Homo sapiens: one gene and its partners. The protein of the gene in region 1 interacts with the protein of each later gene in a biochemical or structural test. Each region holds a gene or a part of one and is shown in the gene's direction. Other genes may lie near its edges. The genes, in order: PALS2, SHROOM4, PDLIM2, SLC16A3, FZD4, DENND5A and GJD4.

The links.
Region 2: the proteins of PALS2 (region 1) and SHROOM4 interact in a test that uses a peptide from one of them, tested with the Homo sapiens proteins (one large-scale study listed by IntAct).
Region 3: the proteins of PALS2 (region 1) and PDLIM2 interact in a test that uses a peptide from one of them, tested with the Homo sapiens proteins (one large-scale study listed by IntAct).
Region 4: the proteins of PALS2 (region 1) and SLC16A3 interact in a test that uses a peptide from one of them, tested with the Homo sapiens proteins (one large-scale study listed by IntAct).
Region 5: the proteins of PALS2 (region 1) and FZD4 interact in a test that uses a peptide from one of them, tested with the Homo sapiens proteins (one large-scale study listed by IntAct).
Region 6: the proteins of PALS2 (region 1) and DENND5A interact in a test that uses a peptide from one of them, tested with the Homo sapiens proteins (one large-scale study listed by IntAct).
Region 7: the proteins of PALS2 (region 1) and GJD4 interact in a test that uses a peptide from one of them, tested with the Homo sapiens proteins (one large-scale study listed by IntAct).

The regions. Positions count from the first base shown.
Region 1 is NC_000007.14:24,677,660-24,681,544, forward strand, and holds part of PALS2 (protein PALS2), read left to right. Parts: intron 1-1,471; coding exon 1,472-1,674; intron 1,675-2,732; coding exon 2,733-2,861; intron 2,862-3,885.
Region 2 is NC_000023.11:50,604,647-50,608,531, reverse strand, and holds part of SHROOM4 (protein Shroom4), read left to right. Parts: intron 1-347; coding exon 348-1,151; intron 1,152-3,885. UniProt on the Homo sapiens protein: Probable regulator of cytoskeletal architecture that plays an important role in development. May regulate cellular and cytoskeletal architecture by modulating the spatial distribution of myosin II.
Region 3 is NC_000008.11:22,590,445-22,592,991, forward strand, and holds part of PDLIM2 (PDZ and LIM domain protein 2), read left to right. Parts: intron 1-1,106; coding exon 1,107-1,224; intron 1,225-2,547. UniProt on the Homo sapiens protein: Probable adapter protein located at the actin cytoskeleton that promotes cell attachment. Necessary for the migratory capacity of epithelial cells. Overexpression enhances cell adhesion to collagen and fibronectin and suppresses anchorage independent growth.
Region 4 is NC_000017.11:82,227,536-82,232,180, forward strand, and holds the start of SLC16A3 (monocarboxylate transporter 4), read left to right. Parts: upstream 1-1,506; 5' UTR 1,507-1,571; exon of another isoform or gene 1,572-4,645. UniProt on the Homo sapiens protein: Proton-dependent transporter of monocarboxylates such as L-lactate and pyruvate. Plays a predominant role in L-lactate efflux from highly glycolytic cells.
Region 5 is NC_000011.10:86,948,650-86,952,534, reverse strand, and holds part of FZD4 (frizzled-4 precursor), read left to right. Parts: exon of another isoform or gene 1-64; coding exon 65-1,393; 3' UTR 1,394-3,885. UniProt on the Homo sapiens protein: Receptor for Wnt proteins.
Region 6 is NC_000011.10:9,262,266-9,266,881, reverse strand, and holds the start of DENND5A (DENN domain-containing protein 5A), read left to right. Parts: upstream 1-1,531; 5' UTR 1,532-1,812; coding exon 1,813-1,921; intron 1,922-4,616.
Region 7 is NC_000010.11:35,603,683-35,608,261, forward strand, and holds the start of GJD4 (gap junction delta-4 protein), read left to right. Parts: upstream 1-1,658; 5' UTR 1,659-1,885; coding exon 1,886-1,949; exon of another isoform or gene 1,950-2,283; intron 2,284-3,843; exon of another isoform or gene 3,844-3,895; coding exon 3,896-4,579. UniProt on the Homo sapiens protein: One gap junction consists of a cluster of closely packed pairs of transmembrane channels, the connexons, through which materials of low MW diffuse from one cell to a neighboring cell.

The DNA.
Region 1 (3,885 bases):
ATGCTGGATTACATTTATTGAGAAGTTTTATTATACACACCTTTGGTGACTAATTCCAGAAACCTTAAAGATCACACAGTTTTAAATATGAAAAGCCATCATAGCATCTTGAAGATTCTCAAAGATACTTTATAAATACTCTTCACAGTAGTCTAAGACGACCACTCTCAAGGTTGAGCCAGAAAACAAGGGGAAAACAGGAGTCCTATTATACATAATGATCTCATTTGACCCTTATTTTTGAGCATGAGTTTGAAGTTCATTTTGTTCTTATAAAAGTTTTCTATGTCTTAGGCTTATTAGAAATAGTCAAAACACTGTCATCTTTTTATTCGGATTACTTTCTTAGTTTAGTTTGGTGTAGTTAATAATTCCATCAGTTATTCTCCAACTACTTAGCTAATAGAAACAGGATACTTCTTATATCCGATCCAGCAAAGCCCAGAGTAAGGCTAAGCTTGAAATAACACGCTCAAAAATTACTTTTCTTCTTCAAAGCTGTTGTTAACAAAGTTGTCAGAGAGTACACATTTGCAACAGTTTAAAAAATGGTAATAACCGTTCCTAGCACAGACCAACTTGCAAAGGGTTGTATGTCTCTGAAAGTATTCAAAGCTGTAAAATATCAGACAAAAGGATCTCCTACTTCTAAATTTTGACTTGAGCTATTCAATCTCATTTTCCCAGAAATAATATGTCAGGTCAGAGGAGAGGAGGTTAATAGACCATAATAATAATGAGGCGTCTAGCTCTACCACTGAAGTATAAAATAGAACAGTTAACATTTGGGAATATCAATAAACAGGAAGCTAAAAGCGTTGGTTTTGAGGTAAGATAAAAGATAGATAATTTGTGGGTAAAACTGCACTTTACAAAATTGGTATCACAACTAAGAACAGGTGAACTTTGCTTGCTCACGTTTTGGGGCAGTTAGGAAGTGTTAATGTGGAAAGAAAAGATGTAATAGATTCCTAAGGAGAAGGAGAGTGCTGGTCAGTTGAAAAGATACTCACTCACAACATGCCTCAAACACTTACCATAATTAAGAACTTCATTGAAGGCTCTGCTGCTAGGTAAATATACTTTGAGTTTCAAAGTGATTTTAAGAAGCATATTTTTGGATACAAATTTTATTTGGGGGACTACCTCTTAAAATATTCCCCTAAGGTATCAAGAAACTTTTCTATTAAAGGGCCACATGGTAAAGTTTTAGGCTTCGCAGTCCATACAGTCTGTCACAATTACTACCACCATTTTAATGGGAAAGAAACCATGTATGATACATAAACAAATGAGTATGGCTGTGGTCCAATAAAACTTTATTTACAAAAATAAGAAGCAGATCAGATCTGGTCATAGCCTACAGTTTGCTGCACCCAGTGGAAAAACGTTAAGCCACCCTATGTATTTTAGTCTATTTTTTATGCCCTAAAATTTCTTTGTACAAAAATCTCAACACTATTTTATTTAGTTACTTCACGGAAACCAAGGGAAGATGAAAAAGATGGCCAGGCATATAAGTTTGTGTCACGATCTGAGATGGAAGCAGATATTAAAGCTGGAAAGTATTTGGAACATGGGGAATATGAAGGAAATCTCTATGGAACCAAAATTGATTCTATTCTTGAGGTTGTCCAAACTGGACGGACTTGCATTCTGGATGTCAACCCACAAGTAAGCTGCTTGGATTCCAAAGCTGTTTTATATTTTATTTTCTGTGGAGTTTTTTTCATGTGTGTCGGGGTTGTTGGGTTGGGGTTGTTTGTTTTGTCAGGGTGGAAAGGTGACTCCCTCCATTACCTTTGGGTGATAGAGAATGTTATTATGTATACATAGCTAGTTAAATAAATCTCTGAACAATTAGCCAACAGAGGCTTGGGTGGCAATAGAAACTGTGTGATTAGATCTACAATAGAAGTTTAGTATGTATTTATTTACCTGTTCAAGTAATGCATAAGTGCTTGTGTTAAGAAATGTTAAGTTTAAAACTCAAGTCTGCAATATAAAGAATAAAAAATTAAAGTCACTCCCCCTCCTACCTGACACACATGCACACCTCTACACTATTCATTTTGTCACTCTATATTTCTGTCACCTACCCCTTCCCACTCCGCTACACTCAGCCCAACCTCACGTCCCTACTCAGAGATAAAAATTGTTAATAGTTTCTTATGTCTCTTTCTAGTCATTTCACTATGCCTTAAATACAAATATATATAAGGTAATGGGTTTTCTGTTTTTGTTGTTTCTTTTTACATAAATGGAAAAATTCTATATAGATTCTTCAGGGGTTTTATTAAATAGAACTATTCCTTGGAGATCTTTTTGTGGTAGTTACTGTAGAGCTTTTTTTCTTTGTAATTGCTATATAGTATGAATATATATTCATTTAACCACTCTCCAATTAATCAACATTGAGGTTATTTCTACTTTTTGAGTATTAACAGAATTCTACAATTAACATAAAAAAGAGTTTACATCACTCTTGATGATTTTTGGATCATTGTTTTATACTTTGTTCAAGAGGAACAGACTGAGTTCAAAACAAAATAAATGGATCACTGTTTTAAGAAAGTACTATATGGAATGAGAAGGACAGAACAGGGATAAGTATTAAGTTATGTCCTTTAATTCATAGAACAAGTGCAAACAGCCTTTGATATATACTAAAGGGTAGCAGAATTCTAGTTCTAATATTGTATAAATTGGCTTATAATTATTCTTTTACACAGGCACTGAAAGTATTGAGGACATCAGAGTTTATGCCCTATGTGGTATTTATTGCGGCTCCGGAGCTAGAGACGTTACGTGCCATGCACAAGGCTGTGGTGGATGCAGGAATCACTACCAAGCTTCTGACCGTGAGCTAACCATACGATTTTCCTTCTAAAATCTTTCCTTTTCTTTTGAGCATGTTTAACTGTTATCTAATTTATTTTTATTTATTTATTTTTGAGGCAGAGTTTTGCTTTGTCACCCAGGCTGGAGTGCATTGATGCGATCTCAGCTCGTTGCAACCTCCCCGTCCCGGGTTCAAGCGATTCTCCTGCCTCAGCCTCCCAAGTAGCTGGGATTACAGGCATGCGCTACCAGGCCTGGCTAATTTTTGTATTTTTAGTAGAGACGGGGTTTCACCATGTTGGCCAGACTGGTCTTGAACTCCTGACCTCAGGCAATCTGCCCACCTCGGCCTCCCAAAGTGCTAGAACTACAGGCGTGAGCCACCGTGCCTGGCCAACTCTTAGCTAATTATGCTTATGAAATAAACATGCTATATAAGGTGCTACAGAATGAAAATTAATTAGATGTAGTTAGGATCTGGAACAGTATTCTTTTACTTGAAAATCATTGTACACTTTATTTTAAATCAAAAGTTTAGTTCCCCTTTGTAAAATGAAATGGACCAATATTAAAATATGCGTATTAATTGAACGCCTTCATTTTACTAGTGGGGTAACTGGGCTCCGAGATCATTAACAGGCATGTTTATTATATGGTTTATCATTGGTAAAGTGGGGTGTTCTGATGTTTAGTTTCTATTACATGTTTTTTCCTTTTTTTCCTGTCTACTTTTTTACTTAATGGAAATTCAAAAATATATACAAAAGAGGGAATAAATGAGTCCCTATGCCGATCGCCTAGCTTCAATAATCGTGGCAATTTCTTGTTTTAATTAGACCCCTCCCCACTTCCTCCTCACCTTGAATTATTTTGAAGCAAATCTTTGATATCATGTCATCTGTAAATACTTCAGTATTTATATCTAAGAGATAAAGACATTTAAAACATACCATTAATACAACAAAAATTAATAAGCAGTATCTTACTATCATCTACATGCAGTCTATATTTGAGTTTCTCCAAGATTTTTTTTTTTTTTTTTTT
Region 2 (3,885 bases), on another chromosome or scaffold:
CTCTACCACATACTAGCTTTATGACCCCAGGCAAGTTACTTAAATGCTCTATGCCTCAGTTTCCCCAACTGTAAAATCAGTGCAATAGTAATAGCTACCTCCTGGGGTTATTGTGAGGATTAGATAAGTGAAGACATGGAAACCACTTAAACAGTGCCTAGTATTTAGTGTGTGCTCAGTAAGTGTTAGCTATCATTATTATAATATTATTATTACTATTATTACATTTACTACACATACTACATTGTTTTGTGGACATTTTAAATTTTATATAAATGTTGTCATCCAAAATATGGGCCTATCTGCAACTTGCTTGTTTTTCTCAGTACTCATCTGATGTTTTGCAGGGAAATGGCTCATTCCAAGACTAGCTTTTCATGGGCAACCCCTTTCCATCCTTGCCTTGAGAACCCAGCACTGGACTTGTCAAGCTACCGAGCAATTTCTTCTCTTGACCTCCTTGGAGACTTCAAACATGCTTTGAAAAAATCAGAGGAAACTTCAGTTTATGAGGAGGGGAGCTCCCTTGCCTCCATGCCCCACCCACTGCGCAGCCGTGCCTTCTCAGAGAGTCACATCAGCTTGGCGCCCCAAAGCACCCGGGCCTGGGGGCAGCATAGGAGGGAGCTCTTTAGCAAAGGTGATGAGACCCAGTCGGATCTTCTCGGAGCCAGGAAGAAGGCCTTTCCTCCTCCTCGCCCTCCTCCTCCCAACTGGGAGAAGTACAGGCTCTTTCGTGCAGCCCAGCAGCAGAAGCAGCAACAGCAGCAGCAGAAGCAACAGGAGGAGGAGGAGGAGGAGGAAGAAGAAGAAGAAGAGGAAGAGGAAGAGGAGGAGGAGGAGGCAGAGGAGGAGGAAGAGGAGCTGCCACCCCAGTATTTCAGTTCAGAAACCTCTGGTTCCTGTGCTCTCAATCCTGAGGAGGTCCTAGAGCAGCCACAACCCCTCAGCTTTGGCCACCTGGAGGGCTCGAGACAGGGTTCACAAAGTGTCCCAGCAGAGCAAGAATCCTTTGCACTCCATTCCAGTGATTTCTTGCCTCCAATAAGGGGTCACTTGGGATCTCAACCTGAGCAGGCTCAGCCCCCTTGCTACTATGGCATTGGTGGGCTTTGGAGGACATCGGGACAGGAAGCCACTGAATCCGCCAAGTAAGTACATATGAAAGATACTAGGTCTCTGAAGAGGCAGGCAGCACAAGTTTGAATTTTACCTCCACTATTTACTAACTGGATGACCTCAGGCTGGCCAGTTAAACTGCTCCCAGCCTCAGTTTTCTTACCTGGAAAATGGGTATAATGATACTTGCTTCACATGATTGTTATGAATATTAAGATAATCTACATAAAGGATATAGCTCCATGCTTAGCACATAGTACATGCTCAGTAAATATCATGTTCTTATCCCTAAATATCTTTATTAAAGTACTATACTTTTCCTTAGTGTGTCTTCATGGTATCCATCAATTTCTGGCCCCTGATCCCAAAGGCATTGAACACTTGTTGCCTATACTAGGTCTTTCCCAGAAACCTGGCTCAGGCACTTTTCCTGCCTTCTCTTCTGCTTGCCCTCCAGAATAAGAGGCCAGCTCACAACCTGACCTGCCTCTGCTCTAGGACAAGTAGCCTGGGCTTCTAAACTCGTCCCCCCACAACCACCAGCATCAAAGGTATTCCTGGGGCTGGGTGCTTCATGCCTTGATAATTCCTTACAATAGATAAGGACATTCTTTTTCTCTTCCACTTTCTCCCCCTCCTTGTTTACCTGCCTCTTTGCATTCATGTGGGTGTGTAATAGGTGGTAGTTGACAGGGTGAGCTGCCTGGGCAGGGAGGCCAAAGCAAGAGTGTGTTCTGGCAGCAGGACTGCCAGTGTTTGTTCACTCCACTGAGCCAGTTGTCATCTGCATGCCCTATAGTGCATGGTTGGGTTTTTTTTTTTAATTTCTTTTGCTCCAAAGCAAAAGCCCCAGGACCATCATTGCTATTATTGCTCAGTGCTCTGGCTGTCAGCAGCTCCACCTGCTCTCCTGTGGAGAGCTCAGCCCACTCTCTGCTGGGGCTGAGGTTCGGGAGGCAGGTGGCTTATAAGTGCTTTCCTTAACTCTCTTTATAGCAGGAATTTGCCTGAGACTTGTTGCGGTTAGAAGTACCTTGTTATCATGTCTTTTATTGTCAGACAAATCTGTGACTTGTCTATGTGGAGCTAGTTGATCAGTTTTCCAGCCCAAGATGCCATAAGCACAGCATTTACAGGGCCTGGCTCCCAGGCACTGTTAAGAATCCTTCATGAGGGGGGGAGGGGGGAGGGATAGCATTGGGAGACATACCTAATGCTAGATGATGAGTTAGTGGGTGCAGCGCACCAGCATGGCACATGTATACATATGTAACTAACCTGCACAATGTGCACATGTACCCTAAAATTTAAAGTATAATTAAAAAAAAAAAAAAGAATCCTTCATTAGATCCCATGTGGCTGCTTCTCAAGCTGTTCTTCTACCTGGGGAGCATTCTCATTGTAATTAGAAAACATTTTGTGAAAAATACCTGTGATTGTTATCTATCATAGCAGGGAAAAGGGAAAATGACCTCCCAATAGTAGGCACTTAACAAATATTTAAGAAGAAAGAACAAATAAATGAATGGATGAACATTTATTAAGTATTTCTTATATACCAGACACTGCCAGACATTATGTATCTATTTCATTTAATCCTCCCAATAGCCCTATTAGCCATTATTATCCCCATTTGACAGATGAGGAAACTAACTAATTCCAAGTTACACAGCAAACATTCAAAGCCAGAGCTGTCTGACTCCAAAGCCCATGCTTATTTTGCCTTCCTAGGCAGCCTCTCCCAGAGAGATCTTGTTCTTTCCATAGGCCAGGAGTCACAGGGTCCTCTTCTCTCCTGTAGGGCAAGGTGTACCAGAGGCAGCAGTTACAAGCCCTGGTTCTTCCTTCTTTGTGTAGCTCCCTTTGCCTTGGCACCTTGGCCAGACAGAAAGAAATCACTATTACTAGAGATCTTGTAACTTGCTCCAGAGATTTATTTTTAATGACTCTAGGATGTAAGGGAAAACATTTGTTTGCACACAGCTCTGCTTGTGACTACAAAATCAATTAGATGCTCCTTTGAGTGATGGAGATTTAAGGAACAGCATCATTCCCAAAATAGCTAATTTTTTTGATTGCTTACTATGTGCCCTGCATTGTTCTAAGCACTTTGGGTAATGATTGATTTAATCATGAAAATAAACCTATGAAATAGTTACCATTCATCTTCTCCATTTCTTAGATGAAAAAAGCAAGGCCCAGGGAGATAAAGTAACTTTATCACAAGATCTCAGGTAGCTCACTATGCTTGCTATATCATCCCACGATCTCTGGGCTCTTGAAGAAGATTCTATTCCAGACCCTAGGAGAGGACAGTGTCCTAGCCAGAAGGAAGCAGCTTTAAGATTTTGTAAGGGACATATAGATGCATAATATTTTGAATCTAAAATGCAAACAAAGATATCCTAATTTCAGCCAAGTTAAACTCTAGTACCTTTATAACCTACATACTGTTCTGTTAAAAAATGCTGGGATACACACAGAAGCCAGCTAGTGGAATAATTAAGTATTATTTAAGTCTAATAACTGATTCAGGTATAGGTATAGCTTGCTTTATGGACTCTATGCATTTCCTCTCAGTGCTCTGTGAAAGGAATCTGCTTTTTGCTTTGATGTTTACTACATAGACCACCTATAATCACTTCCCTATTAATGGAGGTGATAAGGAAAGGATCCCTAGAATATAGTGCCTAATGTGATATACTATAATATGATGCAGGGATGTGTATGCTGGGGAACTGAGTCTCCAATTAGCACATCCTTTTT
Region 3 (2,547 bases), on another chromosome or scaffold:
CTCCGTTCATTGGGGCAGATGGGCCTGGCCAGCTCCCATGGAAGTGAGCGCTGCTGTGGGAGTTACTACTCCCACAGCCCCTGTCCTTAAGGTGCTCAGCACCAATGCCCTCTAGAACAGTGGGGAGAAGGGGAGGGAGATGACAGGACAGGTAGGAGAGTGGCCAGAGAGGCTTCATAATTCATCTATGACTTTGAATTTTAAAATGGAGAGAAGCTGGTTTCCCAGGAAATGGTGCCCCTGGCCCTGGGCACTGGCCCGCCTGGCTGTCTCCAAGGCTCTCCTTCCCAGTGGCTGGTGTGGGCTCCTGGACCTCAGTTGAGTCCCATTGGGGTGGCAATGGAAAGGGAGCAGGGGAGTGGGGAGTACAGAGATGCAGGCTGGAAACTGGCCTCCAGGAACAACTGTGAGGTTGAAGGTGAGATTTCCATTTTGGGAGCAAATGTAAGAGGCCATATGGACAGGGCACACCTGGAGATTGGCAGGTGGCTGGTTCTAACGCTGATGTTTAGCTCCAAGGGGCATTTGCAGAGGCACAGGGGGTGGGGTGAGAAGGTTTGGAGCAAATCTGGTCTGTTTTGACCCTGAGGCCTCAGAAGGTCCCAGGAGGCAGCACAGGGAGAGAGCAGTGACTTTGCCAAGGAGGCCTCAGCGTCCTTAGCTGCAGACGGGCGACAGCTGCCCCGTAGCCCTGGGCTTCATCTTCGTGTGGCTTGAGAGCTCAGATGTGACAAGGCATGGAAAAGCACTTTGAAAGCCACACCGAGGCATTGCGCTCCTGTTGCCATCTCCAGTTATTATCTAATCACACTGTTATTACCAGGTCATTAGAGAGGGAGCACCTGCTTCACCTGACACTGAGCACAGATGGCCCCAGGTGGCCTTGGATGGGCAAACTCGGCCTTGTACCTGCCTCCTTCATGCCCTTGCCCAGCCTCAGCCATGGATCTGGCAAGATCACCTTCCTCCTTACCTGGTGCCACTGTCAGCGTGACTTTAGGGTTTCTCTTATAAGGGTGCTTTCCAAGACCACCTCCTCAGAGCATCTTTGGGAGGATGCTGTGGTTGGTGGGCTCTCACCACATGTCTGTCTGCCCTGCCCCCAGGTGGCACGCCAGCCTTCTTGCCCAGCTCACTGAGCCCCCAGTCCTCCCTGCCCGCCTCCAGGGCCCTGGCCACCCCTCCCAAGCTCCACACTTGTGAGAAGTGCAGTACCAGCATCGCGTGAGTGTGGAGGGGGGTGGGGGACCTGAGCCTTCACAGGGGAGTGGGGAGGGGGACAGGGCACTGGATGCTTTCAGGAAGGGCCGGGCCCATCAGGGGCTAGCACTGGGTACCCAGTCGGGGACTCTAGGGGAAGCAGTGTTGCACAGCTTTGGGGGCATTAGTTACAGGCTTCTTAGGAGCCTAGGCTAGCTGCTTCCGGCTGCATCTCCTCTCCCTCTCCTCCTTTTCCCATCCCTTTTGATTTCTCTTTGATCATTTCAAAGCCTCTGGAGATCTGCCCGGAGGTACAGCACATCCTCTTGGAAAATCTTGCTCTTTCCCCTTCTTCCCCCTTTGGAGCAGGCTGCATTTTTCCCGATGTGGGCTCATTTTTCTTATTTTTCTTTTCTTTTCTTTCTTTCTTTTCTTTTTTTTTTTTTTTTTTTTTTGAGACGGAGTCTCATTCTGTTGCCCAGGCAGGAGTGCAGTGGTGCAATTTCAGCTCACTGCAAGCTCTGCCTCCCAGGTTCACGCTATTCTCGTGTCTCAGCCTCCCGAGTTGTTGGGGCTACAGGCTCCCGCCACCACTCCCAGCTAATTTTTGTATTTTTAGTAGAGACGCGTTTTCCCCATGTTGGCCAGGCTGGTCTCAAACTCTTGACCTTAGGTGATCCGCCTGCCTCGGCCTCCCAAAGTGCTGGGATTACAGCGTGAGCCACCATGCCCAGCCGAGGTGGGCTCATTTTTCTCATTAAGTGGCATTTATAATGCAACCACATTCTCTGGAAGGTTGCTGAAACCCCCCCTCAGGTAAATTTCTGAAGTGTGTAGTGTGGGAGGGGCAGGTGATTGACTTTAGGCAAATCCCTTAACCTCTCTGGGCTTTAGTGTTTTCATCTGCAGAGTGGGAGAATATCCAGTCCCCCTGCTGTGCAGAGATAGGGAATGTGTGTTGAAAAAGCATGTTTTCCATCCTGGTTCTCAAAGGTGTGTGTGTCGGGTCCCTTGGAGGGTTTGTTAAATGCCGATGGCTGGGCCCCACCCCAGAGCCTCCTCTCCAGGAGGCCAACAGGCCTGAGAATGTGCATTTCTCACGAATTCCCCAGTGATGCGGATGCTGCTGGCTGTGGGACCCAGGACCACACTGAGAATCACTGCTCTGTTAAAAATCCAGGCAATGTGGGACGGACTTACAGTCTTTATGTGAGAGGAACAACTTTTAAAAAAAATTTTTAATATTTTTAATAGAGTTTCACTCTGTTGCTCAGGCAGGAGCGCAGTAGTGCCGTCATGGCTCACTGCAGCCCCAAACTCCTGGGCTCAAGTGATCCTCCCATCTCA
Region 4 (4,645 bases), on another chromosome or scaffold:
TCAGAAACTGATGAATCGCCTGGTGCAGGAAGATGGGAGCACCACCTGCCCTGGGCGGGAGCACCACCTGCCCTGGGCGGGAGCACCACCTGCCCTGGGCGGGAGCACCACCTGCCCTGGGCGGGAGCACCACCTGCCCTGGGCGGGAGCAGCACGGGCCAACTAAGTAGAGTCTTCATCTGTGAAGTTGGAGGCCCCCTCACCACTTGCCACAGGCCTGTGTTCTGCTCACAGGCACGTGCCCTCATCTTGATGTTTGGGGATGGGGGTGGTTGGGCCCCAGGTAGGGGTGAGGGCCAGACCCAGCCTCTGTGAATGCCAGCGGGAGGGTGGGCTTGTAACATTACATAGAAAGAACAGGCGGCCTTACTGGACCTGATGTCCCGCAAGGCTGGGCTGCAGATGGAGAGCCAAGGCCCACACGGCCTCACTGTCAGGGGTGGCCTCCCCTTGCCCTCTGGAGGGGTCCTCCATTGATACCCCCTGCCTCCTTTGTGTGTGAAGGCACGGGCTTACCAGTGCCTCGGTCCCCGAAGCCCCCGGGTCCGGGAGGGGCCAGTTAAAGCATTCCTGTGGCCCTGGCAGGGTGGCCCTGACAACTAGACTCCTTGGTCCAGGCCAACAAAGGCCTTACTCCCTGGAGCCACCTCAAACCTCAGCACCCAAAGCGGCCCGTTATTTCCATGTTGCAAATGAGAGAAAACAGGCTGGGAGAAGCACCTCACGAGGTCCAGCGGGTGGGCAGCCCTCGCCTCCCCGAAGGTGGGAGCCGCCCCGGCCTCCGCGTCGGGTTCTGGGCCGCGAGAGGGGCGGGGCAGGGGCGCAGGGCTGGAGTCGGTGGCTTTGTAGGGCCCCGCAGGGCGCGGAGCCACCTGGGGAAACGGAAGTTCAGGGAGGGCGAGGCCGTGCCCCACATCCAGGCAGCGCAGGCCGCGGGCCGCTCCCCTAGCCAGGAAGAGCCGCCGTCCGCACCGGGACCGGAGAGGAAGCGGAGGTCTGAAGGGGGACAGGTCGGACGTGGCCTCAGAGAGGGAGGATGTGGGCCCCGGAGCTGAGCCAGGCGGCCGGAACCCCACGGGACCCGCGCGCACCTCCCCACCAAAGGGGCCCCGGCGTTGGGGGGCGAGGGGTCGCTGCCCTGGAGGACGTTGGGACCTGCCGCGCTGCGCTCCGAGGCGGGGAAACGGAGGGACGGCGGGGCGGAGGGGCGAAGCGAGCCTGGACTCCGGGGGAGGCGAGGCCGGGAAGACCCAGTCCCGAGGAGCAGAGGGGGCGGGCCAGCTCCGGGCCGGGGGCGCCGACGGGGCCGGTTCCGGTTGGGGGGGTCCCTGGGCCCGGCGGGGTTGCGGGACGCGCCGTCGGGGAGCTGCGGCCCGGGAGCCCGTCCGGAGGCGGCGCGGGGTCCGGGCGGGGCGCGCAGGGGCGGCGCCAGGCGGTGACGTGCGCGGGGGACGTGCCGCGCCAGCGACCCGAGCACTTAAAGTCGCCCCCGGCGCGGAGCGGACCGGCAGAGGCGGGCAGAGGCGGCGAGAGGCGGCGAGAGGCGGGCTGAGGCGGCCCAGCGGCGGCAGGTAGGCGCGGCCGCGATGCTCGCGCGCGGGCCGGGGCCCAGGAGCTCCCCCGTGCCGGGCAAGGGGGCGACCTCGGGGTCCGCGCTCTCACCCCCACCCCGCCCACTTTGTCCATCAGGTCCGGGGGCGCCCGGGGCATGGACTAGCCTTCTCGACCCCGAGCGGGCCCCACCGAGGGCTCCCGAGAGCCAGCCGCGCCCCTCCGCGCCCTCGCATACCTGGCTGCCCAGTCTCGTCTCCCCCGGTCCGGCCCGGCGCCCACCCGTCGGGCTGCCCTCAGGGGCTGGGCTCGGGCCAGGAGATGGCTGCGCCGGCGGCCAAGCCCGGTCCGGGTATAAATAGCTCGGTCCGCGGTGGCGGGGGGCGCGGGCTATATTTGGTGGGGCTGCTGCAGCCCTCCCTGTATGGGTGGCCTCCCCGAGGGAGTGGGGAGCACTTGCGCTCGGGCCGTGGCGCTTTCCCCTGTTCGCAACACCCTGAACACTCCCCGACCCACACCCGCCCTTGGGCAATGACTAACAGCCCGAGACCGTGCAGGGAAGTGGGGGACCCTCTCCAGAGCCAGGCTGGGCTCCCTGGGTTCGCCCTACCTCCACCCCTGGCCCCCAGCTCGTGGGAAAACCAGGCGCAGCCTTTGGTAGCCTCCCACTTCCTAACCCACGCCTCAGTTTCCCTATACGAAAAGTGGGTTGGTCAGGAGCCTCCCTGGGTGTTGGGCCAGTCAAGAGACAGGAGCCGCAGAGTGGAAGGGAAGCCCTTAGCTCTGGCCGGGGCCTCCAGGGGTGGCTGGAGTCGGTGAGGGACGATGGGGGGAGCCGAGGGGCGGCTGTCCTCCTCTCTGTCCCAGAGGCATGGGCTGAAAGGGTCCCTCTCCTGGTGATGGCCAGAGTCAGGCCTGCTGGGCGGGAAATGGCAGTTGGCCCACCCCAAGGCCCAGGGGCTTGTCCATGCTGAGCACAAGGGTGGGAGGTCTTGTGTCTGTTGGGGCCGGGGAGTCCAAGGTCCCAGCTTCACTGCACAGGCCTGGAAGTCAGGTGGGTGCTGGCCTGACCCTGCTGAAGGAGGGTCTATTCCGCCAGCGTGGTGTGGAGGCGGCTGGGCTCGACTCCCTCATGGAGGGAAGGAACTGAGGAGGTGCTAGGAGGCCGTGGGGGGGTGTCTGCCCCCAGAGAGGCTTTGAGTGCATGGGGGCTCTGCCGTGGCACGTGCAGCGTCTGTCCCCCAGGGCCCCATGGTGTGGACAGAGTCTGGGGTGGGCACCTGGAGGCCTGGTCTCAAGGCAGGCTTGGTAACGACCCCATGTGACCTTGGGCAGGGCCCGCCATCCAGGCCACCCAGAAAGCCATGTGGCCTGCACGATCAGGCCAGACCCCACTGACTGGAGCGGGGCACTTTACTTTGGAGGGGCAGCTACCAGAGGGCTCTATGGATCCCAGCCCAGCCGTCAGGCCGGACGGGTCCCCCCTACTGGCCTGCAGTGACCCTTATGCCAGGCTCGGCTGGCTCAGCGGTGGGTCCTGGGGTGACCTGGCCACGTGGGACAGAAGGGCCTGTGCCGCTCCCTCCAGTGAGGTGCCAAATGTGGGCCACACTCTGGGCCCCAGCGGGGGCCTTCCGGGCAGTGGCGCAGAGCCATTGGAGGTGCCCGGGCCCTGGGGCAGGGGCGGGGCGGGAGCAGACAGAGCTCAGGGCGTCCTCCTAGCGTCACCTGCCCGAGTCAGGCCCATCTGTGAAATGGGCCACGCCGGGCAGCCGCACGCAACGGAACCGAACCGCCGGGCTCCTGCTCCGAGACCCGCAGTTCACGAGTCGACGCCCCCGAGTCCCGAGCCGCGCCCACTGGTCCCACCTCTGCAGCAAGTGGAGTCGGCCCCGCCCTGTGGCTTCGAGGCCCCGACGCCTGGCGCGGCTCCCGGGCTCCGCTGACCCCGGTGGACCCGCGCGCCGGCAATTACGGTAGCGTCCAGTAGGGCGCCTACTGCGGGCAATACGGGGGCTCCTCCCATGGCGCGGTCACGTCCCCCACGTCCCGCGGCTGGCGGGGCGGGGCCGGGCGGAGCATCCTTCCCTCCCCCTCCCCCGGGTGGGCCCCGCCCAGCCTCGACCACCCGCGCCGACCCCCGCCCGCAGAGCCGGGAAGCCGGAACCCGCAGGCGCCCTCCAGCCGTCCCTCCGGCCCGGGCGGGGATTGCGCCGAGGAGGGGCCTCTCCTGGCGAGGGTGGAGTTTTGGGTTCCCCCCTTCGCCCCGCACCTCCCGCCTTCCTGCCTCCTCCCGGTCTTCACCTTCCCCCCCGGGTCCCCACGACGCCCGCTGGGCGGCGGTGGGGTAGGGGGCGCCTCCTGACCCGACTCCCCTTCCAGCCTTGGCCTTCAGGCACTGGCTTTAGGGTGGAGGGGCGGCCTTGCGGGGTCCAGGAGGCCTCGGAGGTGGGGGACGGCGGCTCTGGACCAGCTCCGGCCCCCACCACCTCCCGGCCCCAGGGCGGTGACAGCCTTGCGGAGAAGGGGTCTTCAAAGCTCTGAGACCCCGCAGTGCCAGCTCAGGATTGAAGCCTGCGGCGGCACATGCAGCCTTCCTTTCCCAAAGGGGACTTGCGCCCAGCCCCACTTGGGGCACCAGTGGGGGCTCCTGGCCCTGGCCCTGGGTGGGAGTGGCCAATCCGCAAATGAGGCCTGTGTGTCTGCCCCGCCGGCCCCTGCCGTCGTGATGTAAGCGGACACAGAGCGGCAGGGCACGGGCTGCGCGAGGGGTCTGCGGGGGTCAGAGGTGGGGCGCAGGGCCCAGGCCTGGGGCAGCCCCTTGCGCAGCGTCCACCCCCTGCAAGCTCGGCCCCGACACCTTTGCAGGCGCCTGGGGCGGGGCTGCCGGGAGTTGCTCACTGCTCCTTCCTTGTTTGCACAACAGGGGCTGCGGGGGAAGAAGGGAACTGAGGGAGGCCCCTCCCCCGGTGCAGCGCCCTCCCGCCCTCGGCACCCCTCGGCAGCCAGGCGCTGGCCACAGAGGCCGCTTCCTTGGTCCTCAGGCAGCTCATGGGATCCAGGAAGGAAACGAATTACCCTTTTCCTGCCCCGC
Region 5 (3,885 bases), on another chromosome or scaffold:
AGCATTTGGTCAAACTTCCAAGTCATTGTTTTTTTTGTGTGTGTTCATTTTGTTACTTTTCCAGTTCTTCCTTTGTTCTGTTTATGTGCCAATGTGCACAGAGAAGATCAACATCCCCATTGGCCCATGCGGCGGCATGTGTCTTTCAGTCAAGAGACGCTGTGAACCCGTCCTGAAGGAATTTGGATTTGCCTGGCCAGAGAGTCTGAACTGCAGCAAATTCCCACCACAGAACGACCACAACCACATGTGCATGGAAGGGCCAGGTGATGAAGAGGTGCCCTTACCTCACAAAACCCCCATCCAGCCTGGGGAAGAGTGTCACTCTGTGGGAACCAATTCTGATCAGTACATCTGGGTGAAAAGGAGCCTGAACTGTGTGCTCAAGTGTGGCTATGATGCTGGCTTATACAGCCGCTCAGCCAAGGAGTTCACTGATATCTGGATGGCTGTGTGGGCCAGCCTGTGTTTCATCTCCACTGCCTTCACAGTACTGACCTTCCTGATCGATTCTTCTAGGTTTTCCTACCCTGAGCGCCCCATCATATTTCTCAGTATGTGCTATAATATTTATAGCATTGCTTATATTGTCAGGCTGACTGTAGGCCGGGAAAGGATATCCTGTGATTTTGAAGAGGCAGCAGAACCTGTTCTCATCCAAGAAGGACTTAAGAACACAGGATGTGCAATAATTTTCTTGCTGATGTACTTTTTTGGAATGGCCAGCTCCATTTGGTGGGTTATTCTGACACTCACTTGGTTTTTGGCAGCAGGACTCAAATGGGGTCATGAAGCCATTGAAATGCACAGCTCTTATTTCCACATTGCAGCCTGGGCCATCCCCGCAGTGAAAACCATTGTCATCTTGATTATGAGACTGGTGGATGCAGATGAACTGACTGGCTTGTGCTATGTTGGAAACCAAAATCTCGATGCCCTCACCGGGTTCGTGGTGGCTCCCCTCTTTACTTATTTGGTCATTGGAACTTTGTTCATTGCTGCAGGTTTGGTGGCCTTGTTCAAAATTCGGTCAAATCTTCAAAAGGATGGGACAAAGACAGACAAGTTAGAAAGACTGATGGTCAAGATTGGGGTGTTCTCAGTACTGTACACAGTTCCTGCAACGTGTGTGATTGCCTGTTATTTTTATGAAATCTCCAACTGGGCACTTTTTCGGTATTCTGCAGATGATTCCAACATGGCTGTTGAAATGTTGAAAATTTTTATGTCTTTGTTGGTGGGCATCACTTCAGGCATGTGGATTTGGTCTGCCAAAACTCTTCACACGTGGCAGAAGTGTTCCAACAGATTGGTGAATTCTGGAAAGGTAAAGAGAGAGAAGAGAGGAAATGGTTGGGTGAAGCCTGGAAAAGGCAGTGAGACTGTGGTATAAGGCTAGTCAGCCTCCATGCTTTCTTCATTTTGAAGGGGGGAATGCCAGCATTTTGGAGGAAATTCTACTAAAAGTTTTATGCAGTGAATCTCAGTTTGAACAAACTAGCAACAATTAAGTGACCCCCGTCAACCCACTGCCTCCCACCCCGACCCCAGCATCAAAAAACCAATGATTTTGCTGCAGACTTTGGAATGATCCAAAATGGAAAAGCCAGTTAGAGGCTTTCAAAGCTGTGAAAAATCAAAACGTTGATCACTTTAGCAGGTTGCAGCTTGGAGCGTGGAGGTCCTGCCTAGATTCCAGGAAGTCCAGGGCGATACTGTTTTCCCCTGCAGGGTGGGATTTGAGCTGTGAGTTGGTAACTAGCAGGGAGAAATATTAACTTTTTTAACCCTTTACCATTTTAAATACTAACTGGGTCTTTCAGATAGCAAAGCAATCTATAAACACTGGAAACGCTGGGTTCAGAAAAGTGTTACAAGAGTTTTATAGTTTGGCTGATGTAACATAAACATCTTCTGTGGTGCGCTGTCTGCTGTTTAGAACTTTGTGGACTGCACTCCCAAGAAGTGGTGTTAGAATCTTTCAGTGCCTTTGTCATAAAACAGTTATTTGAACAAACAAAAGTACTGTACTCACACACATAAGGTATCCAGTGGATTTTTCTTCTCTGTCTTCCTCTCTTAAATTTCAACATCTCTCTTCTTGGCTGCTGCTGTTTTCTTCATTTTATGTTAATGACTCAAAAAAGGTATTTTTATAGAATTTTTGTACTGCAGCATGCTTAAAGAGGGGAAAAGGAAGGGTGATTCACTTTCTGACAATCACTTAATTCAGAGGAAAATGAGATTTACTAAGTTGACTTACCTGACGGACCCCAGAGACCTATTGCATTGAGCAGTGGGGACTTAATATATTTTACTTGTGTGATTGCATCTATGCAGACGCCAGTCTGGAAGAGCTGAAATGTTAAGTTTCTTGGCAACTTTGCATTCACACAGATTAGCTGTGTAATTTTTGTGTGTCAATTACAATTAAAAGCACATTGTTGGACCATGACATAGTATACTCAACTGACTTTAAAACTATGGTCAACTTCAACTTGCATTCTCAGAATGATAGTGCCTTTAAAAATTTTTTTATTTTTTAAAGCATAAGAATGTTATCAGAATCTGGTCTACTTAGGACAATGGAGACTTTTTCAGTTTTATAAAGGGAACTGAGGACAGCTAATCCAACTACTTGGTGCGTAATTGTTTCCTAGTAATTGGCAAAGGCTCCTTGTAAGATTTCACTGGAGGCAGTGTGGCCTGGAGTATTTATATGGTGCTTAATGAATCTCCAGAATGCCAGCCAGAAGCCTGATTGGTTAGTAGGGAATAAAGTGTAGACCATATGAAATGAACTGCAAACTCTAATAGCCCAGGTCTTAATTGCCTTTAGCAGAGGTATCCAAAGCTTTTAAAATTTATGCATACGTTCTTCACAAGGGGGTACCCCCAGCAGCCTCTCGAAAATTGCACTTCTCTTAAAACTGTAACTGGCCTTTCTCTTACCTTGCCTTAGGCGTTCTAATCATGAGATCTTGGGGACAAATTGACTATGTCACAGGTTGCTCTCCTTGTAACTCATACCTGTCTGCTTCAGCAACTGCTTTGCAATGACATTTATTTATTAATTCATGCCTTAAAAAAATAGGAAGGGAAGCTTTTTTTTTTCTTTTTTTTTTTTTCAATCACACTTTGTGGAAAAACATTTCCAGGGACTCAAAATTCCAAAAAGGTGGTCAAATTCTGGAAGTAAGCATTTCCTCTTTTTTAAAAATTTGGTTTGAGCCTTATGCCCATAGTTTGACATTTCCCTTTCTTCTTTCCTTTTTGTTTTTGTGTGGTTCTTGAGCTCTCTGACATCAAGATGCATGTAAAGTCGATTGTATGTTTTGGAAGGCAAAGTCTTGGCTTTTGAGACTGAAGTTAAGTGGGCACAGGTGGCCCCTGCTGCTGTGCCCAGTCTGAGTACCTTGGCTAGACTCTAGGTCAGGCTCCAGGAGCATGAGAATTGATCCCCAGAAGAACCATTTTAACTCCATCTGATACTCCATTGCCTATGAAATGTAAAATGTGAACTCCCTGTGCTGCTTGTAGACAGTTCCCATAACTGTCCACGGCCCTGGAGCACGCACCCAGGGGCAGAGCCTGCCCTTACTCACGCTCTGCTCTGGTGTCTTGGGAGTTGTGCAGGGACTCTGGCCCAGGCAGGGGAAGGAAGACCAGGCGGTAGGGGACTGGTCTTGCTGTTAGAGTATAGAGGTTTGTAATGCAGTTTTCTTCATAATGTGTCAGTGATTGTGTGACCAAGGCAGCATCTAGCAGAAAGCCAGGCATGGAGTAGGTGATCGATACTTGTCAATGACTAAATAATAACAATAAAAGAGCACTTGGGTGAATCTGGGCACCTGATTTCTGAGTTTTGAGTTCTGGAGCTAGTGT
Region 6 (4,616 bases), on another chromosome or scaffold:
TCCCCAAGGGAAACAATATTTGAGAGAAGTACCCAGGAGAACCTAGGAGAGAGCCTAGGCTCAGCCTTTGGGGAAGCCAGCTGCCTTCTACAGCTCTTAGTGGCAGCCTCCCAGAACAAACCGTAAGAGTACTTCCTTCTGGAACAATAATAATAATCCAGGCTGGGGGCTCATTGGCTCATGCCTGTAATCCCAGCACTTTAGGAGGCAGAGGAGGGCGGATCACCTGAGGTCAGGAGTTCGAGACCAGCCTGACCAACACGGTGAATCCCTGTCTCTACTGAATACAAAAAATTAGCCGAGTGTGGTGGTGCGCGCCTGTAATCCTAGCTACTTGGGTGGCTGAGGCAGGAGAATCACTTGAACCTGGGAGGCAGAGGTGCAGTGAGCCGAGATTACGCCATTGCACTCCAGCCTGGGCAACAAGACAGAACTCCGTCTTGAAAAAAAAAATCTGTAATATTTACTGAGTGATTTCCATGTTCCAGGCAGTATTCTCATTGTTTTACCTGTACTTGCATTTACCTTATGTAATTGTCTCAAAAACCATGACGCCAGGCACTTAGAGATTAACTTGCTCAAGGTCAAAAGTAAATGATCGTCAGGATTGAAATCCGAGCATTTTTTTCTAGAGCCCATGCTAGTGACCACTATACCTGTGTTGCCTTTCTGGCCTCTGATCTCCAGTTTCCAACAAAGACACATCTGCCTAGCTTCTATGGGAAAGGAAATCGGAGGGTCCTAGGACAAGGACCAATAGGTAAGTTTCCCTTCGCCTCCTCCCTATCCTCTTACAGGAAAACAGGTTTAGGGGTGGATCTGAGAGTTTTCACAGAGTGAAGAGGAAGAGGAGCTCCCAAATGGCAGGCGCCTCTGGAGGCTTCCAGAGAAAAAAGGAGAGAGCGTGGGAAAAGGGCAGGCTGGGAGGTGGGAGCGGCGAGGAACGGGGAGCTGACCACAAGCCCAGGATTCCAGACCAGGCTTATGTCTCTTAGACTCAGCGTAACCTTGGATAAGTCCTTGCTTCTTTCTGAGACTCAGTTTCCCCGTCTGTAAAATAAGGGTAAATATAAAACCGGCTCATCCGCCCCTGCCAAAAGAGAGGACAGGGAGAAGGCCCTGTCTGGGGTCTAGGCTGACACGCTGCAGCTAGGATTAGGTGAGCTTCCGAGCTCAGTCGTGAGACCCCATCCTCATGGCAAGGCCGCGCTAAGATCTCTGGACCTCTGCTTGCTGGGTGGGTGGTTGGGGGCAGAGCATGGGCCAAATGCCCGGCTCTGCAGGCTGCGCCCACTCTTCTCGCACCTCCTCAGCCCTCCCTAAAGGAGTCTCAATCCCGGGGGAGTGGCAGTTGCGGGCGACCAAGCAGTCACCGGCTGCGCTGCGGCGACCTCCCGGGAAGCTGCGGCCGGCGGGGTCCGAAGAGCATCACGTCATCCTTTCCCCCAGGAGCCCGCCCCCTCCCAGACGGCGCCTGCGCAGGCGCGGTAGGAGGAGGGTCACGGTGGGGGCTGTCCACGCGCTCTCCGCCCTTCTCCAGGCTCGCTCGGGCCGCGGCGCTCTCGGCTAGCTGCAGCGGCGGCGGCGCGGAGGGGAAGGCATCCAGGATGCGGTGCGGGGCGGCCCGGTGCCCCCCCGCCCCGTCACGGCAGCCGCGGCGGCCGAGGGGACCGGGCCAGGGCCGGGGGCGGCGGCCCGAGCCGCGGTAGCGGCGGCGGCGGGAGGGGCGGCCTGAGGGCGGACGGGCGGGCGCCCGGGTTGCGGGGGCTCGGTGCCGCTCCGCACTGCCCGGCCGGTCTCGGCCCCGGCGCCATGAGTGGCGGCGGCGGCGGAGGGGGCTCGGCGCCCAGTCGCTTCGCCGACTACTTTGTCATCTGCGGACTGGACACGGAGACCGGGCTGGAGCCGGACGAGCTGTCGGGTGAGTGCGCGCCGAGCCCGGGGCGCTTTCCCGCGCCCGCTGTCGTCGGGGACCCCAGAAGAAACCTTCCTTCAGCCCCGCTTTGTCCCGGGAGCCGGGCGAGTGTCGGCCGGGAGGACCAGGGCGGGCGCGGGCGAAGGGGGCTTTGGACTGGAGGGGGGAAACGGATGAGGGGCTCTGAGCCATGAGGGGTCCAAACCTACGGCCCGCTGCGCAGTGGCCACGTCTTCGGCGACCAGAAAGAGGGAGGGTTGTGTGTTCTCAGTTTGGTGTAGGTTGAGTGACTTCGTTTAAAATAAAGGAAAGCTTGTCCTCTGGCACCCATTAGGGAGGGAAGGCGTCCCACGTCCTAGTGAAAGTAAGTTCCACCCAGACTTAAAAAAAAGGAAAACAAAAACTTGGTGAGTTTATCTGGCCACTTCCCAAGAAGCTTGTGATACTAGTTCCTCAAAACCGTTATACCCCAGCCCTGGGCTGGGCCCCCTGAGTCAGATTGCAGCTCTGCGCGTCTGGATGGGATATGAAGTAATAAAGTGAACTTGGGCGGCACCAAGAAGAGTAGGAACTCCCTTAGCCTTGGAAAGGGCTTGTATCCCGGGGCCATGCCTTTTTTGAAAAGTAATTTATGTCCTTTATGAGGACAGAGGCGTTTGTGAATAAAAGGGTAGCAGCATTGTAGTTGGAGAGGCTTGGTGTGTTCTGATGCGTTTCAAGTCATATTTGAAAGGGAAAGTGATGAGGGGAGTCAAAGATGGGGCCCTGACCAGATTTGGCACTCACTGCAGAAGGCCGTGAAAATTATACAGTCCCCGTGAATTTTCCACTGCACTGTCATTGGAGTCTTTGAATTGTAACAGTTTTGAAAATAAGTTTTTGTCTGGAGTTTCCAGTTAGTGGGTTTCAAGTGGGTGGAGGTTTGTCGGGTTGTACTTTAAGGTTGTGTCATCCTGATGAGGGGGACTCCTTTTCACTTTTCTGTCACTGTAAAGTTTCTCTTTCGAAAGTGATTATCCTGTTGACTAATCTTACTCGGCTTCAACGATGACAAGACAGTTTTGTTTTTGGGCACCAGAAAAAGTCCAGTGTTTCTTTTTTTTTTTTTTTTTTTTTTTGAGACGGAGTCTCGCTCTGTCGCCCAGGCCGGACTGCGGACTGCAGTGGCGCAATCTCGGCTCACTGCAAGCTCCGCTTCCCGGGTTCACGCCATTCTCCTGCCTCAGCCTCCCGAGTAGCTGGGACTACAGGCGCCCGCCACCGCGCCCGGCTAATTTTTTGTATTTTTAGTAGAGACGGGGTTTCACCTTGTTAGCCAGGATGGTCTCGATCTCCTGACCTCATGATCCACCCGCCTCGGCCTCCCAAAGTGCTGGGATTACAGGCGTGAGCCACCGCGCCCGGCCCAGTGTTTCTTATGAAAAAAAAATTAGGCGGGGCGCGGTGGCCCACCACCCGGCGGCTCAGGGGTAATCCCAGCACTTTGGGAGGCCGAGGCGGGCGGGTCACCTGAGGTCAGGAGTTCGAGACCAATTTGGCCAACATGGTGAAACCCCCGTCTCTACTAAAAATACAAAAATTAGCCGGGCGTCGTGGCGCGTGCCTGTAATCCCAGCTACTCAGGAGGCTGAGGTAGGAGGATCGCTTTAACCCAGGAGGGGGAGGTTGCAGTGAGCTGAGATTGCGCCAGTCTGGGTGATTGCGCCACTACACTCCAGTCTGGGTGATAAAGCGAGACTCTGTCTGGGAAAAAAGAAAAAGAAGAAAAAAGCATGATAAATTCATGCTTTAACAAGGTTAGAAAAAAATGAGCTATTTCCTCAATAGCAGGTGGAGAAAATATGAAGCAGTAATATAATTAATATTAGGCTTTTTGTCGGGGTAGTTTTATGGTTTCTAATTTACTTTAAAAAAATTTTAGTTTTAGGCCGGGCGCGGTGGCTCACGCCTGTAATCCCAGCACTTTGGGAGGCTGAGGCGGGCGGATCACGAAGTCAGGAGATCGAGACCATCCGGGCTTACAGGGTGAAACCCCGTCTCTACTAAAAATACAAAAAATTAGCCGGGCGTGGTGGCGGGCGCCTGTAGTCCCAGCTACTCAGGAGGCTGAGGCAGGAGAATGGCGTGAACCCGGGAGGCGGAGCTCGCAGTGAGCCCAGATCGCGCCACTGCACTCCAGCACTCTAGCCTGGGCGACAGAGCGAGACTCCGTCCAAAAAAAAAAAATTATTTTGATGAGTACCTAATAATTGTTCAAGTTTATCTTTTAAGGTCTTCAAATTCTTATAGTACAGATGTTTTTCATCTTTTTCATATGTAGTAAGTTTGTGACTTTGATGTAATTTTTGGAATTCGGTTCAGGGTATTGGTGTTGGAAGGGACCTCAGAGGGGAAAATGAGGCCCAGGAAGGACAGTGGGGCCTGTATACACTAGTTAATTGCTTGGTCCAGTGCTCTTCTCATGACATTAAACTGCATCTCATTGGCCTGGCTGGAGGTCTTTAGAAAACACTAACATGTTGAGAAATATTAAAAACAACATAATTCTTCTCAGTAAAAGAAACTAAGGTGGTGGAATAAACTTTTTTTTATGCGTGTTTTTGAGTGTCAAATTGTATGAACACTTGGTTTGAGAAGATAGAATGTTTTGCGAATGATAGAGCATAAGAATGAAGCTGGGAAGTTAACTGTTAGCGAGAGC
Region 7 (4,579 bases), on another chromosome or scaffold:
GAGAAAAAAGACAAGGAATGGGGATGGGGTAGACTTCAAGGAGGAAGAGCAAAGGTGACCAGGATGAGAAGGGAGATGGGTGGGCATGGGCTGCTCAGAAGATGCCCTGAAGGGTGGGACCAGAGGAGCCAACCCTGAGAAGCGCCTGTCACTGACACTGGGTCATTCTTTACATTTCAAAATCATTTTCACATCTCTGGTCACATTTGCATATCACAGTCACTGTGAGTGGGTGAAGAACACATTCTTTTTTTCTGCTTCACTGATGAGAAAACCGAAGCATGAAAAGCTGCAGTGATTTGCTCATGGTCGCGCAGGGCTAATTTATTCCACATTTGGGATGGGCTATTTCTATCACACAGCAAGAGTCAGTAATTGCTTTCCTGATATTTCATTTTTTTTTTAAAGCCAATACCATGAGCAGTCTATTAGGAGACAAATTCTCCTTTATTTTATACTTACACCCTGTGACTATTTCAATATTTTTACTTAACTACAATTTCTCAAATTTCCTTGCTCATGTCGAAGCATTTGACTAAAATATAGCAAAACCACTGTTCCTTTCAAGGGGGTCAAAACGTTTTCCGTGGATGGGAGCATGTCATGTGAGCAAAGATGAAAGTAGCTTTGTTGCACTCTTCTGGGAATCTTTCTAGGGATATTACTAAAGTCAAGAATAGATCAGAAATGAAGAAAAGATGGGGATATAAAGAATAGCTTTCATGGAAAATTGAAATCATTCCTTTTAAAGTTTACAATTTCCACCCTGATCATAGATCCCCAACCCTGCAGGATGGGTTCTTCCCAGATATGAAGGTGGCTGCAGCGATAGGATTTTGACGCAACTGTGATTGATGTCAGCAGGTCCAGACCGTGATATTTCATGACAGATTTAACAGACATTTATTAAGTAGATTCAATGGGAACAGCTCCAGGCTAGATGGGGCTGGGAGATACAAAGGGAAGATGTAATCTGTGAAGGTCGTAGAGGCCAATTAGGGATTGAAATCCCACGGATATGGGTTGTCGTACACCCACTTCACACCAGTTGCTCTTATTCTACACCATCATTTCACATAAGCCTCCCACAAATGGCAAGTGGAATGGCATGATTCTCCTTATTGCAAGATGAGGCTATCTGGAAGGATCCAATGACTTCCCCAGTGAGTAGGGGGCTGCCCCGGGCTTTGCACCCAGGCTTTTGTCTCCAAGCGAAGAGTTGTCACTCACTGCACAGGAAGCAGCAGGAGAATAACCAAGTCACGGTCTAAAGTTGGGACACCCAACTGAGTTTCAGATTTCTGCCTGCACCAATGACACAGGAATTCAGAATAAGGGCGAGATCCTTGTGGGTTCGTGTGATGGTGGCATGGCGATTCATGCTTGATTGAGAAGACAAAACGTGAACACTTTAAGGGCTTCTTGCACAAGTGAAGTGGTTGTGGAAATGTTTTCAAGGAGGAAATGCCTTTTTAATAGAGAAATTTACTTGGCTAGTTAGCAGAAGTTTTCTTTCTTGGGTTAAAAGTAGTTGCTGCTATTATATCCTGAAGCATCTGGCTGTCCTGGTGGGGACATATGAGCGCTGCCACAGGCCGGGAATATCCCAGGCGAGTAAGAATAGCCCACAATAAGAGATGACTGCTGCTTGCTCTGCTGGTCACTGCAGTTGTCAGGAATGTTTCGCCTCAGAGGCAAACGGCTTAGGGCCGTCTCAACTTGGAGACAGAAAAACCCACCTCCTACTCCTGGCTCAGACCTTTGCTTTCTTATCTCCAGCTCACACCTTTAAGTCTTATGTAGTTAAAGGACATTTATCCGCCTCCTTGGAGAACACAGCCCTCCAGTGTCTCCTGCAGCCTGGAGCCTGGGACATTCTGGAAGCATGGAAGGCGTGGACTTGCTAGGGTTTCTCATCATCACATTAAACTGCAACGTGACCATGGTGGGTGAGTATTGGGACCATCTCCAAACTCCTGCGCTGTTTTTATTTCCACTGCCATGGTGGAATTGAGTCCTTAAAGGGTCCAGGTATTTACTCATTTTCAGTGTGCAAGCACCAAGCTGAAAGTCCACCCACTCCCAAAAGAAAGGGCTGTGCCTTTCTGGAGGGAAGAGAGCTGAGGCTTCTAGTTTCTTTGAATGGTTCCGCGGTTCCTCCGTCATGTAAGGGAGTCTTGCGTTTGACATTGTTCTCTCACAGATCATCCTGTGCTGACACTGGGGTGCTGACTCCAAAGACCAAAGCAGGTGGAGGGGTGTTTGTGTGCAACCCTGGTGTGGCTACGTTACCAGGAAAAGGAACAGAACAACAAATGTTAATCAGAAGGTGATACCTTTAGGTTTTATTCTGGAAGCTTGGTTTTTTTTTTTTGTTTTTGGAGACAGAGTCTCACTCTGTTGCCCAGGCTGGAGTGCAGTGATGCAATCTCAGCTCACTGCAACCTCTGCCTCCCGGGTTCAAGTGATTCTCCTGCCTCAGCCTCCCGAGTAGCTGGGACTACAGGCGCCTGCCACCACGCCCAGCTAATTTTCTGTGTTTTTAGTAGAGACGGGGTTTCACCGTGTTAGCCAGGATGGTCTCGATCTCCTGACCTCGTGAGCCACCCGCCTTGGCTTCCCAAAGTGCTGGGATTACAGGCGTGAGTTACCACGCCTGGCCTGGAAGCTTAATTTTTAAGGAGTAGCCATTTCTCTTGTGCACTTTAAACCAAATCCCAAGTTTAGTTATTTTTTTTAACAAAGAAAATAATAGATTTTTGTTTAATGCAGACGACTCACATTTTCAGAGAGGTATGGGGGTCAGAAAAGGATGAATATATGCCGGAGATGCAGTTGATACTTTTCTGGCTCATTATTTTGTAGATTTAGACAAAACCAACTTGATGTTAAAAGTTCAACTCAATGACTCATCACATAATGATATTATTCTTTGTTTGACTGTCTTTACATATTTATTTTTGTTTTGTTTTTATGATGTCAGGCGATGTTTCTCTCATCACAAAACACAATATTCACAAGTTATTTTGGCTGAGTTTTAAACATGTTTCGAAACAGTTGGCCGGTGCCATGAAAATAGGGCTTGACAGTTATTTTGGTTTTCTAGCTTGGTGTCATTCCTTCACGATACATTGAAGAAAGACAAGCCCCATTCATTCCTAATAACTGGAAAAGGGGAAGAGGAATTCTGAATGATTAAAAAATCTGAAAAATGGAATGTTCATAAAGAAATTCAATTTCAAGGGCCGTAGACTAACATTAAATACAAGCCCTGTGATTAAATAGAGATCCCTGGACTGTTGTCATAAGTAAGATTTACTGAAATCAGCAGCTCGAATTGGCAGTTACAGAAATACACCAACCTCTTTTAAAAGGCTTATTCTCCTAAGAAGAAAATTTAAATCTTATTTAAATCATTAATTTGCTCAGCCAAACTTTCTTTCTGGACCTATCAGTCCAGGAGACATTACCAAAAGTCTGAATTAGCAGACAGATTAAAACACTTTTAATATAATGCTTTTTAAAAATCTACTCATCTTGAAGCATCTTACAAACAAGGATGTTCAGTGCTCAGTAAATATTTGTCAAATGAACTACCTGATGCTGTGAGTAAAGACAAGCTGACAGGTGTGGTGGCTCATGCCTGTAATCCCAGCTACTCAAGAGGCCAAGGCGGCAGGAGCACTTGAGGCCAGGAGTTCAAGACCAGCCTGGGCAATATAGCACGACCCTGTGTCCAACAACAACAACAACGACAACACAAACAAACAGAAAACTAAAGACATGCTTATTGACGTTTCAATTTCCCAATCTCAGCCCCAATAGACACTTTAAAGCTGTTACTCAGGGCAGTGTATTCGGGGTGATGAGGCCATGCCCGCTTCCTCTCTTCCAGGAAAGCTCTGGTTCGTCCTCACGATGCTGCTGCGGATGCTGGTGATTGTCTTGGCGGGGCGACCCGTCTACCAGGACGAGCAGGAGAGGTTTGTCTGCAACACGCTGCAGCCGGGATGCGCCAATGTTTGCTACGACGTCTTCTCCCCCGTGTCTCACCTGCGGTTCTGGCTGATCCAGGGCGTGTGCGTCCTCCTCCCCTCCGCCGTCTTCAGCGTCTATGTCCTGCACCGAGGAGCCACGCTCGCCGCGCTGGGCCCCCGCCGCTGCCCCGACCCCCGGGAGCCGGCCTCCGGGCAGAGACGCTGCCCGCGGCCATTCGGGGAGCGCGGCGGCCTCCAGGTGCCCGACTTTTCGGCCGGCTACATCATCCACCTCCTCCTCCGGACCCTGCTGGAGGCAGCCTTCGGGGCCTTGCACTACTTTCTCTTTGGATTCCTGGCCCCGAAGAAGTTCCCTTGCACGCGCCCTCCGTGCACGGGCGTGGTGGACTGCTACGTGTCGCGGCCCACAGAGAAGTCCCTGCTGATGCTGTTCCTCTGGGCGGTCAGCGCGCTGTCTTTTCTGCTGGGCCTCGCCGACCTGGTCTGCAGCCTGCGGCGGCGGATGCGCAGGAGGCCGGGACCCCCCACAAGCCCCTCCATCCGGAAGCAGAGCGGAGCCTCAGGCCACGCGGAGGGACGCC